Homo sapiens: one gene and its partners. The protein of the gene in region 3 purifies or fractionates together with the protein of the main gene of each other region. This does not show direct contact. Each region holds a gene or a part of one and is shown on either strand. Other genes may lie near its edges. The genes, in order: ITGA2, USP29 and CEACAM6.

Region 1 (3,653 bases), on a different chromosome or scaffold from region 3:
AGCTTGTTGTAAAATGTAGAAATAAAAGACATACTAGATTACTTTATTCAAACGAATGTTTATAGAGTTTTTCTACAAAAGAAACATTCATAACTCATAAATACCTTTAAAAACTAAATTTCAATGTCTACCATCCACATAGGAGTAAAACAATAAGAAATATAAAATTATCTGTATTTAAATGGTTCCATTCCCTCTAATACAATAGCAACAAAGAACAATCCAATTGCATTTACTTATTTGTTGTCAGTATCATTTTGATGCAAAGATAGTTTATTACACAGCAATTTTCTCAGTATTCTAAGTAAGTCTAAAGAGTTTAGTTTTTTAATGAGTGAAATTTTAAAATACTGGCCTTTTTATTTAACAGTAATGGCTTTTCCCCCCTCCTTTTTACTTTTAACAGAGAACAACCCTTTATTGTCAGCAACCAAAACAAAAGGTTAACATTTTCAGTAACGCTGAAAAATAAAAGGGAAAGTGCATACAACACTGGAATTGTTGTTGATTTTTCAGAAAACTTGTTTTTTGCATCATTCTCCCTGCCGGTATGTGATGAGACCCTGTACTTACTTCCACCATGCTTCCTACTTATAGATCACTGTCTTCTCTATGTCCTCTGAGTTGTTTAAAGAAGCACCTTAACCCTCAACATGATCAATCTGAACTTTGTGGCTTCCGACTAGTTAAACTGCATGAGAACATAGTCTGGCTCTATATCTAGATTCTGCTTGACAGCTTGGGTCAGTTTTTCCCTTATCCTGAGACTTGGCAGCAGTAGCCAGACACTCCCATAACTCTTCTTGAGCTATCAGTGTGATGAGGCTGCTGCATTCTGCACAGATGTGGTGCACTTGCTCTGAGACATTTGAGTCCCAAAGCTTAGCCTGAGCTTTGCAACTATGGTTGTTGCTGCTGCCAAGATGATGCACGCCAGCAAAGCCAACTAATCACATTGACTTGATCATTATACCAGGAGCACACTTGACTGTGAGTGCTCCCTGGTCCCTCCTCTACCACCAAATTATGAAGAAAAAAGGGAGAGAAGGAAAAGCTGAGATTTTCCAAATGAGCTATCTGATTAAAGGATTAAACAATGATTTCATTTAATTTAGAGTTAATGTGATCTTAATAGGCTTAGAGTTCTAAACCTAACCTGACCTTGGTGTTTAAACACCCTGTGCCAAGTGGCAACTACTTCCTTTAAAGGGAAAAAAAAACCTGAAGAAAACTAAAAAAAAAAAAAAAAAAAAAACCCTCAAATTACTTAAAATACAGACAAACACCAACATATGATTTTACTTTCTTCTCTTGAAAATGCTTCAAATAAATTGAGAAGAACATATTCCTAAAGCCAGCATTTCAAAATATTGAATTAAAGCTATTCGTGCATCTGAAAATAAAAACTATCATTTTTTTCTGGGGAAAAAATACAGTATTTAATCTTTTCTTTGTTTTGTTGGATGTTCTAGGTATCTTTAGGGTTAGCAATAAAAGTAGTATATTAGCCACCTGGGCAGTATAAAATTTCAAGTCTTGAGGTATAATAAATTATTTCAGTATGAACCAACCTTACTGCTAAAATGCCACTGTACCTCTTTTACCAGGTGCGTGCATACACACACAAATGTTGTATGCCAATTGATCATTGTTGTTTCCTTGGTCTTGTTCAGGTTGATGGGACAGAAGTAACATGCCAGGTGGCTGCATCTCAGAAGTCTGTTGCCTGCGATGTAGGCTACCCTGCTTTAAAGAGAGAACAACAGGTACAACTTGCATTTCATCCTCCAATCCATACAAGCCCTCCTTAGCACATATGCTAATTTACCAACATAACATCTTGCTATCATGATTTGATAGGCATCACAAAATAACTAGCTGCATACTTAGGGGAAGTTTTCAATATCTAAATGTTTTCTTTAAATTATTAATAAAAATGGGATTTTCTCCATGCAATTCATTCCAAAAGGTACACATACTATGGAAAGTTCTTTTTGTCTAAATATGTTGAGCAACATTGGTCAAAGCACTATACACAGAGTCACAGAGATCATTTATTAACCCCTAGTAACAAGTTTCACATCAGCTCAAAGCTTCCAAATTCAGACAGGTATATACGCCTGGATAACTTACATGTGTCACTTGGAAGTCAAGCTTCTCTAATTCTAATGTGAGGCATAGTAAAACAAGGTGGACAAATAAAGATATTCCACAAATTTGAAAGCTTAAGGTATATAAAATTCAGAATCAAATTTGAGTGAGTTTACTTTTATGAGAAACATTTTTTTTTTCACGTTGGCCTCTGAGTATGAAGCATCATAGACTGAGAAATTTTAATTTTGTCTTTAGGTGACTTTTACTATTAACTTTGACTTCAATCTTCAAAACCTTCAGAATCAGGCGTCTCTCAGTTTCCAAGCCTTAAGGTAAAACATAATGAAGTCATGAATGGAATGATGGATAGCTTTGTATTTCTCTTTAAGTAATTTCCTAATGTTTCTTTCTATAGTGAAAGCCAAGAAGAAAACAAGGCTGATAATTTGGTCAACCTCAAAATTCCTCTCCTGTATGATGCTGAAATTCACTTAACAAGGTAGGTGAAGCAGTGGGTAACCTGCTATCACTGACACCAACTCTAGATCAGAAGATTTTTGGCTCATGGCTAAAGAAGTCCTCTGTATGCTCATTCTTAACTGAAGAATTTGAATTAAAATTCTTGTCAACTAAAACAGGAGTCCACAGACATATTGGTCCCTAGGAAAACCTTGAGTGACTCGTTAGGCTTATTAAACCAATGAGAGTAGCCCAGAAAGGCAGAGAAAGATCCCCGTAGCCACACATCACAGGCACACTCCACATTGCAGGCCCTCTGAGTAGCTGCAAACATTCTCAAAATGTTGAAACAGAACTCTCAAAGGTCCTGAGAGTTGTCTTCACTTTCTTCTCACTGCCTACTTCCCATTGTATGTGAGATCTCAAGCAGTATCCCCATTCCTGGACATTGAAGCCCCAAGCACAATGTTTTGCACAGAGTAGGTCCACAATAAATATTGAATCTAGTCACTGTTTGAATATTCAAATATTGGAACTAGATCAAGTCTAGTTTCTGAGGGAAAAATTCCTCACATATCAGATTAGGGTTTTCTTCCAGCCAGGTGGAAATGAGGTTTTTTCCAAAGGATGTTATCCATAAAGAAATGCTTTGTTCCCTGTTTTTACCTGCCCAAAGCAAGCAAACCTGAGAGCAGTGGTGTAAATGTCACTGGTTGATACAGGCTGTCTTTAATTGTTCAGAGGGACAGGTGTCTTGGTAAGTGGGTAACACACAAATTCCACAGGTTCTAATAGGTCGATATCACTTTAACTCACACTTAGAAGTAAGGTGAGTTCATGGCACAGACAAACTGGAACACAGTTGTGCAGATGCACTGGGCACAGGTGATGCCCTCCTACAGGCCTGGGAACCAGAGTTCTCTACCTGGTGAAGCAATAGGACAGCTTCCCAGCACAGATCAATGACCCCTGAATAGCACACTGCAGCACTTTCCCAAGAAATCCAGTGACAGCAGGTTTGTCTAACTTCTACCACATCACTCCAGCCCCTAAGAGCATGGAATCTGTAGATCATCCAATAGCTCTCTGAGCAAAAACAA
Region 2 (3,653 bases), about 15 Mb from region 3:
TCTTCTTTAAAGAAAAGATCTAAAGAATTCTGAATGGACAAAGGAAGTGGTTTTGTTTCTTGGTGCAGGTTGATGGAGAGATAATTATTAGGTTCTACCTTGAGAACAGCATGACCACAAGCTTTACAAATAAGGGAGAGCTGCAATTCAAACTCAAAATTAGCAACAACAGGGCAAACAAACACTTTGGTGGCAGCACTACCAACATGCATTTGTGGAGATGAATTTTCATCCCCACATTCTTTCCCAGTATTCAAAGTGGCATTTAATTTTTCCATGTCTTCTTTCAGCTGGTCTAAACACTGACCTAAAAACTCATGAGCATCATTCTGCATGTTGCCAGAAAATATTTCTGCAACTGCTGAAATGACTTTTTTAACATTCCCAAGTAATTCTCTCTTGATCTTTGTACTACAGAAATCTTTCAAAGCAAGCAGCTGGGTCAAGGTCATAATAAGAGCCTCAAAGGGAATATATTCCCATGGGACACCTTGAGTGAGTAAGTCATCAGCAAAAGATGGAATTGCAAATAGCGATTGTAAAACTGCATTCATGTAACAGGTGTTTCCCAAATTGGGGAACCCCTGCTGCAGTTGCTGTGAATGAGAGTCAAGAGGCACCTGGGCTTTGTTGCATCTTGGGTCACCCTGGCTGTGCTCTGGTTCCAATGGAGATGTCAAACCATTTTTGGCATTGAGAGTCTGGGTTGCAAGAACAGTCTCATCTAGGTTAGGATTTCCATTACAGTTGGTATTGAATGAAGGCCCGAGTTTCAAATCTCTATCTTTTTCTAAATCCTCTAAACTTGATGGGTTCTTCCTATTGCTTTGTATATATTTCAAGGAATCTGTCTTATATTTCTTGTTTGGTACAGGGTTATCTTCCTTCAGAATGTCCTCATTTGTCTGTACATCAGATGATAGTGTGTTTTGCCCCTTCCCACCTTGATTTTCTAATATCCCCTTTTTCACATGTGTTGGTGATTTTGACATAAACAAAGGCATCTTCTGATAACTTGGCTTGTTACAAATGCTGTAAAATGAAGTTTTGTCAATTTCCTTCAGCATATTCCTGCTTTCAAACACACTCCAATCATCATCAGATTTCATGGGTTGCTGAGATTTGTTTTGGTGGATTATGTCCAGGAACATATTCAACTGTTTAGCATCTCTGTAGGATAATTTGTCAATAAACAAGAACACGTTGTTTTTCAAAGTTAAACGCAGGTGACTTTGTCTTTTTTTACAATGTCTAAGGACCACACTTCTAATGTTGTTGCTCAGCTGAAAAATTCTTATAAATTTTCCAGATTTGAAAGTGACCACCAGTTTAATTTCCTTTTGTCTTTGCACTGTTTCAATGAGAGCTTCTTTCAGCTTAGTCATCCCAGTCTTCTGGCTCCAAATTTGGATGAATCCACATACCTTTAGAGATATCATCCTTTCTTTATGTAACCTAAAGAAGAAAAGCACACATGCATTTTAACCAAGAATATATTAACAGTTATATTTTATGAAAAACCTCATCCACATATAATAATGATTTATTTTTAGTCTTCTTATGCTCTAAGTAAAATACTCTTTTGGGGTGCTAATATTCTGAAGCTGTGCCAGTTCTCCAGAAGACATAGACTGAGGCACACGCATTTTCAAGGGAGCTGTTAGGCGAGAAAGAATATACAAATGGCCAACAGAGATATGAACAGGTGCTCAGCATCACTGCTCATCGAGAAAATACAAATTTGGTTGGGCATGGTGGCTCACGCCTGTAATCTTAGCACTCTGGGAGGCCAAGTGGAAGGATCACTTGAGCCCAGGAGTTCAAAACCAGCATGGCAAAATAGGGAGACCTCATCGCTACATAAAATTTTTTAAAATTAAAAAAGGGGCGGGGCCAAGATGGCCAAATAGGAACAGCTCCGCTCTGCAGCTCCCAGCGAGACCAATGCAGAAGGTGGGCGATTTCTGCATTTCCAACTGAGGTACCCAGTTCATCACATCGGGACTAGTTAGGCAGTGGGTGCAACCCATGGAGGGCGAGCAGAAGCAGGGTGGGGCATTGCCTCACCTGGGAAATGCAAGGAGCCAGGGACCTCCCTCCCCCAGCCAAGGGAAGCCGTGAAGAACTATGCTACTCGCCCGGTTACTACGCTTTTCCCACAGTTTTTGCAATCTGCAGATCAGGAGATTCCCTTGTGTGCCTACACCACCAGGGCCCTGGGTTTCAAGCACAAAACTAGCCAGCTGTTCGGGGAGACACCGAGCTAGTTGCAAGAGTTGATTTTTTTTTGTACACCAGTGGTGCCTGAAACCCCAGTGAGACAGAACCATTCACTCCCCTGGAAAGGGGGCTGAAGCCAGGGGGCCAAGTGATCTCACTCAGCAGGTCCCACTCCCATGGAGCCCAGCAAGCTAAGAACCACTGGCTTGAAATTCTCACTGCCAGTGCAGCAGTCTGAAGTTGACCTGGAATGATGGAACTTGGTTGGGGGAGGCGCATCCGTGATTAATGAGGCGTTAGTAGAGTTTTCCCTGGACAGTGCTAAGGAGGGTGGGAGGTTTGGACTGGGCAAAGTTCACCACAGCATGGCAAAGCAGCTGTGGCCAGACTGCTTCTCTAGATTCCTCCTCACTGGTCAGGGCATCTCTGAAGAAAGGGTAACAGTCCCAGTCAGGGGCTTACAGATAAAATTCCCATCTCCCTGGGACAGAGCACCTGGGGGAAGGGGTGGCTGTGGGCACACAGCTTCAGCAGATTTAATCTTTTCTGCCTGCTGGCTCTGAAGAGAGCAGCTGATCCTGATAAGAGGGATTTTCCCAGCACAGCACAACAGCTCTGCTAAGGGACAGGCTGCCTCCTCAAGTGGGTCCCTGACCCCCGTGCCTTCTAACTGGGAAAGAACTCCCAACAGGGGTTGAGAGACACCTCATGCAGGAGAGCTCTGGCTGGCATCAGGCTGGTGCCCCTCTGGGACAAATCTTCCAGAGGAAGGAACAGGCAGCACTCTTTGCTGTTCTGCAGCTCTGCAGCCTCCGCTGGGGATACCCAGGTGAAAAGGGTCTGGAGTGGACCTCCAGCAAACTGCAGCAGACCTGCAGAAGAGGGGCCTGACTGCTAGAAGAAAAACTAACAGAAAGCAACAACATCAACATCAACAAAAAAGACCCCCACACAATAACCCCATCCAAAGATCAACAGCCTCAAAGATCAAAGGTAGATAAATCCACAAAGATGAGGAAAAACCAGCACAACAACGCTGAAAAATCCAAAAAACAGAATGTCTCTTCTCCAAATGATCGCAACTCCTGTTCAGCAAGGACACAAAACTGGACAGAGAATGAGATTGATGAATTGATAGAACTAGGCTTCAGAAGGTGGGTAATAACAAACTCCTCTGAGCTAAAGGAGCATGTTCTAACCCAATGCAAGGAAGCTAAGAACCTTGATAAAAGGCTACAGGAATTGCTAACTAGAATAACCAGTTTAGAGAGGAACATAAATGACCTGATGGAGCTGAAAAACACAGCATGAGAACTTCGTGAAGCATACACAAGTATCAATAGCCAAATCAATCAAGCAGAATAAAGGACATCAGAGATTGAAGATCAACTTACTGAAATAAGGCGTGAAGACAAGATTAGAGAAAAAAGAAT
Region 3 (3,653 bases):
GGAGTTCGAGACCAGCCTTATCACCATGGAGAAACCCCGTCTCTACTAAAAATACAAAATTAGCCGGGCATGGTGACGCATGCCTGTAATCCCAGCTGTGCAGGGGGCTGAGGCAGGAGAATCGCTTGAACCCAGGAGGCAGAGGTTGCGGTGAGCCGAAATCACGCCATTGCACTTCAGCCTGGGCAACTAGTGAAACTCCATCTCAAAACAAAAACAAAAACAAAAAACAACCCCCCCACCAAACAAAACAAAACAAAAAACAATTGTCAGTGAATGACAAAGATTGAAAATGAGTATGGTTAAACATCTGATGAGAGTTCATTATGATAAGAATGCATCTCCCAGGTGAGGGGCGCCTCTGCCCGGCCGCCCCTACTGGGAAGTGAGGAGCCCCTCTGCCCGGCCAGCCGCCCCGTCCGGGAGGGAGGTGGGGGGGTCAGCCCCCCGCCCGGCCAGCCGCCCCGTCTGGGAGGTGAGGGGCGCCTCTGCCCGGCCGCCCCTACTGGGAAGTGAGGAGCCCCTCTGCCTGGCCACCACCCCGTCTGGGAGGTGTACCCAACAGCTCATTGAGAACGGGCCATGATGACAATGGCAGTTTTGTGGAATAGAAAAGGGGGAAAGGTGGGGAAAAGATTGAGAAATCGGATGGTTGCCGTGTCTGTGTAGAAAGAAGTAGACATGGGAGACTTTTCATTTTGTTCTGTACTAAGAAAAATTCTTCTGCCTTGGGATCCTGTTGAACTGTGACCTTACCCCCAAACTTGTGCTCTCTGAAACATGTGCTGTGTCCACTCAGGGTTAAATGGATTAAGGGCGGTACAAGATGTGCTTTGTTAAACAGATCCTTGAAGGCAGCATGCTCGTTAAGAGTCATCACCACTCCCTAATCTCAAGTACCCAGGGACACAAACACTGCGGAAGGCCGCAGGGTCCTCTGCCTAGGAAAACCAGAGACCTTTGTTCACTTGTTTCTTTGTTCACTTGTTTATCTGCTGACCTTCCCTCCACTATTGTCCTATGACCCTGCCAAATCCCCCTCTGCGAGAAACACCCAAGAATGATCAATAAAAAAAAATAAAAATAAATAAAAATAAAAATAAAAAAAGAATGCATCTCCCATAGACATTTAGTTACTTCTGTGGCATATGACATTATGGCTTATAATCTGTTAGATTTCTGGGAATCTCTTATAATTTTTGGAACACTCACATCAATAACATAACCATAAATATAACTTAGAGAAGGTTTAGCATCACTTATCATTTGACAGTGCTTCCCATATAATGTAACATATCAAATAAGGCGGCTTTTCCTTTTAGTTTCTGTTTCTCAGTTAGATTACTGAGTTCTTGGTGGAGCCCATTAATGAATTAGGCCAACAAAGTATAGGCCCATGTATGTTGAAAAAGCTCCAGAGGTAATTCTAATCCTCCTAGCTAAAAACCATGGGTTTAGCCCCAAGTCCTACCTATTAGAACAGGGATCCTCCATCGTGGCTACACATTAGTAGCGTCTGGAGAGGCTTAAAAATTACCAATGCCTGGGTCCCACTCCAGATCAGTAGATCAGAATTTATGGTTGGGGCTTGAGCATCCGTTTTTAAAAATGTTTCGGAGTGATTCCAATGTGTAGCTATATTTCCCATCAGATTTATCTGAATTTTTGTGGCATTCGCTCCTTTCTACTTTGGTATCATGATTATTTTTCAGGTCTTATCTCCTGTCTTGGGCTTTATGTTCCCTGGGGGTAGGGACCTTGCCTTCTTCATTTCTGTATCTGTTATGAACACATGAATTGATTGTCAGGAAAAGGTTCTCAGCCACATGCAGGATGTGTCCAAAGTTCACATATTAATACTACACAGTCTGTGTTCTCCATGAAATAAGAGGTTGCTTGTGATGAAGGGTGTGAGTAAGTCCACAGGGCAGGTAGTGGAGGGGAGATCACCCTGTTTTTAGGTGTAACATTGAAACTAAGAATTCTATGTGCATCCGGGGTAAAGGGGCAGGGATGTGTAGAGAGTCAGATTCTAATTAAGATGGAGGAATTATACTGGGAAGTAGAGGGAAAGAAAGTAAGAAGAATTAGTAAAGAGAAGAAATTTGAACTTAACTAGTAGGCCAGAGCAGGTTCCTTTGGCTTCTTTTTTTTTTTTTTTTTTTTGAGACGGAGTCTTGCACTGTCGCCCAGGCTGGAGTGCAGTGGCACGATCTCGGCTCACTGCAAGCTCCACCTCCCAGGTTCACGCCATTCTCCTGCCTCAGCCTCCCGAGTAGCTGGGACTACAGGTGCTCGCCACCATGCCTGAATAATTTTTTGTATTTTTACTAGAGACGGGGTTTCACTGTGTTATCCAGGATGGTCTGTATCTCCTGACCTCATGATCCGCCCACCTCGGCCTCCCAAGGGGCTGGGATTACAGGCATAAGCCACTGTGCCTGGCCCCCTTTGGCTCCTTAAGTAGGTGAGTGAACTAGATTTTAGGAAGGTAATGAGGCAGTCATATGCAAGAAGGATTCCAACCTTACAACAAGGGGTCAAGCAGGATGTTGAACAATTATTGAGGTTGATGGGAATGGAGAGACTGACAAAAGTGAGAGATGTTGAAAAAGGACGAAGAGGCTTTGACAATGTATTGACTCTAGGAAACAAATGAGCAGAGGCTGGGGATAATTATATCTAGGAGACAGTGGGGTACAGGGAGCATGAAGACCAGGGAAGAAGAGACCTGCAGGAATTAGTGCTGAGAAGCAGGAGTTTAGCGGTAGAAGGAGATCCAGTCCCAGATACAGGTGAAGAAGTTTTTTTCCTTTCCCAAGCATGGTGGTCAGCCCTGCAGGAAACATGGCAAGAGGAAAGGCGATCATACCTGCCAGTCTTCCTGAAATATCGAAAATACACCAGGGCTGCTATATCAGAGCCACCCTGGCCAGCACTCCAATCGTGATGCCGACGGTGGCCACAGCTGAGAGGACAGGAGCACTTCCTTGTGGGAAGAAGAGAGAAGGAATGAAGGTGATGTTATTCTACAGTGGGGTCCCCAAGAACTAGCTGTCAACATGAAGTAGGCTTGACTTGTTCCTTCAAGGAATACACTAGTTTTGTGGGAAAGTTGCAATTTTTTTTCTCTCTTACCACGTTTCTAGGTTGGTGATCAGTCTTCTGTCAATTTCATCCTGTTCTTTCTGCACTCAGACATTTTTGAAGGCTTTGAAAATTTGAGAAAGTCTGATTGCTATTTTTGCATGTCATTAGAACTTTCTATATTTTTATGTTTGCATCTTTTTCTCAGTGTCTCAATTGTGGCAGCCATGAATAAGAGCCTGTTGGAGCTCTATGGCAGGGACTTGATGGACAGAAGGCCCAGGCTAGTGCATTCTGAATTTACTATGTTCTTTGCACAGAGAACTCACTTCCCATGGGCTCCCACCAGGGGAAAGAAAGCAAGCCCAGGTCTGTGAGACCCTGCTTCACTCTCATGGGTGAGGGGTTCAAGGACTCCCCATCGGTCTTGGGGAAACTCAGAACTGCACTGCTATGTAAAACTTCCCTCCTTCTCTTTCTCCTTCTCAGGAATGAGATCTGCATCGTGGTCTGAGGGCTCTCTTAGGCTCTCCTGTCACTGCTGCTCCACCTTCCCTCATGGCTGT

The links.
Region 1: the proteins of CEACAM6 (region 3) and ITGA2 purify together in Homo sapiens (affinity purification with western blotting, with the first as the bait; one study listed by BioGRID). This does not show direct contact.
Region 2: the proteins of CEACAM6 (region 3) and USP29 purify together in Homo sapiens (affinity purification with western blotting, with the first as the bait; one study listed by BioGRID). This does not show direct contact.

Annotation. Positions count from the first base shown.
Region 1 is NC_000005.10:53,072,712-53,076,364, forward strand, and holds part of ITGA2 (integrin alpha-2 precursor), read left to right. Parts: intron 1-406; coding exon 407-548; intron 549-1,673; coding exon 1,674-1,766; intron 1,767-2,349; coding exon 2,350-2,426; intron 2,427-2,509; coding exon 2,510-2,593; intron 2,594-3,653. UniProt on the Homo sapiens protein: Integrin alpha-2/beta-1 is a receptor for laminin, collagen, collagen C-propeptides, fibronectin and E-cadherin. It recognizes the proline-hydroxylated sequence G-F-P-G-E-R in collagen.
Region 2 is NC_000019.10:57,126,462-57,130,114, reverse strand, and holds part of USP29 (ubiquitin carboxyl-terminal hydrolase 29), read right to left. Parts: intron 1,456-3,653; 5' UTR 1,440-1,455; coding exon 1-1,439.
Region 3 is NC_000019.10:41,765,519-41,769,171, reverse strand, and holds part of CEACAM6 (cell adhesion molecule CEACAM6 preproprotein), read right to left. Parts: intron 2,990-3,653; coding exon 2,913-2,989; 3' UTR 2,873-2,912; intron 1-2,872. UniProt on the Homo sapiens protein: Cell surface glycoprotein that plays a role in cell adhesion and tumor progression. Intercellular adhesion occurs in a calcium- and fibronectin-independent manner.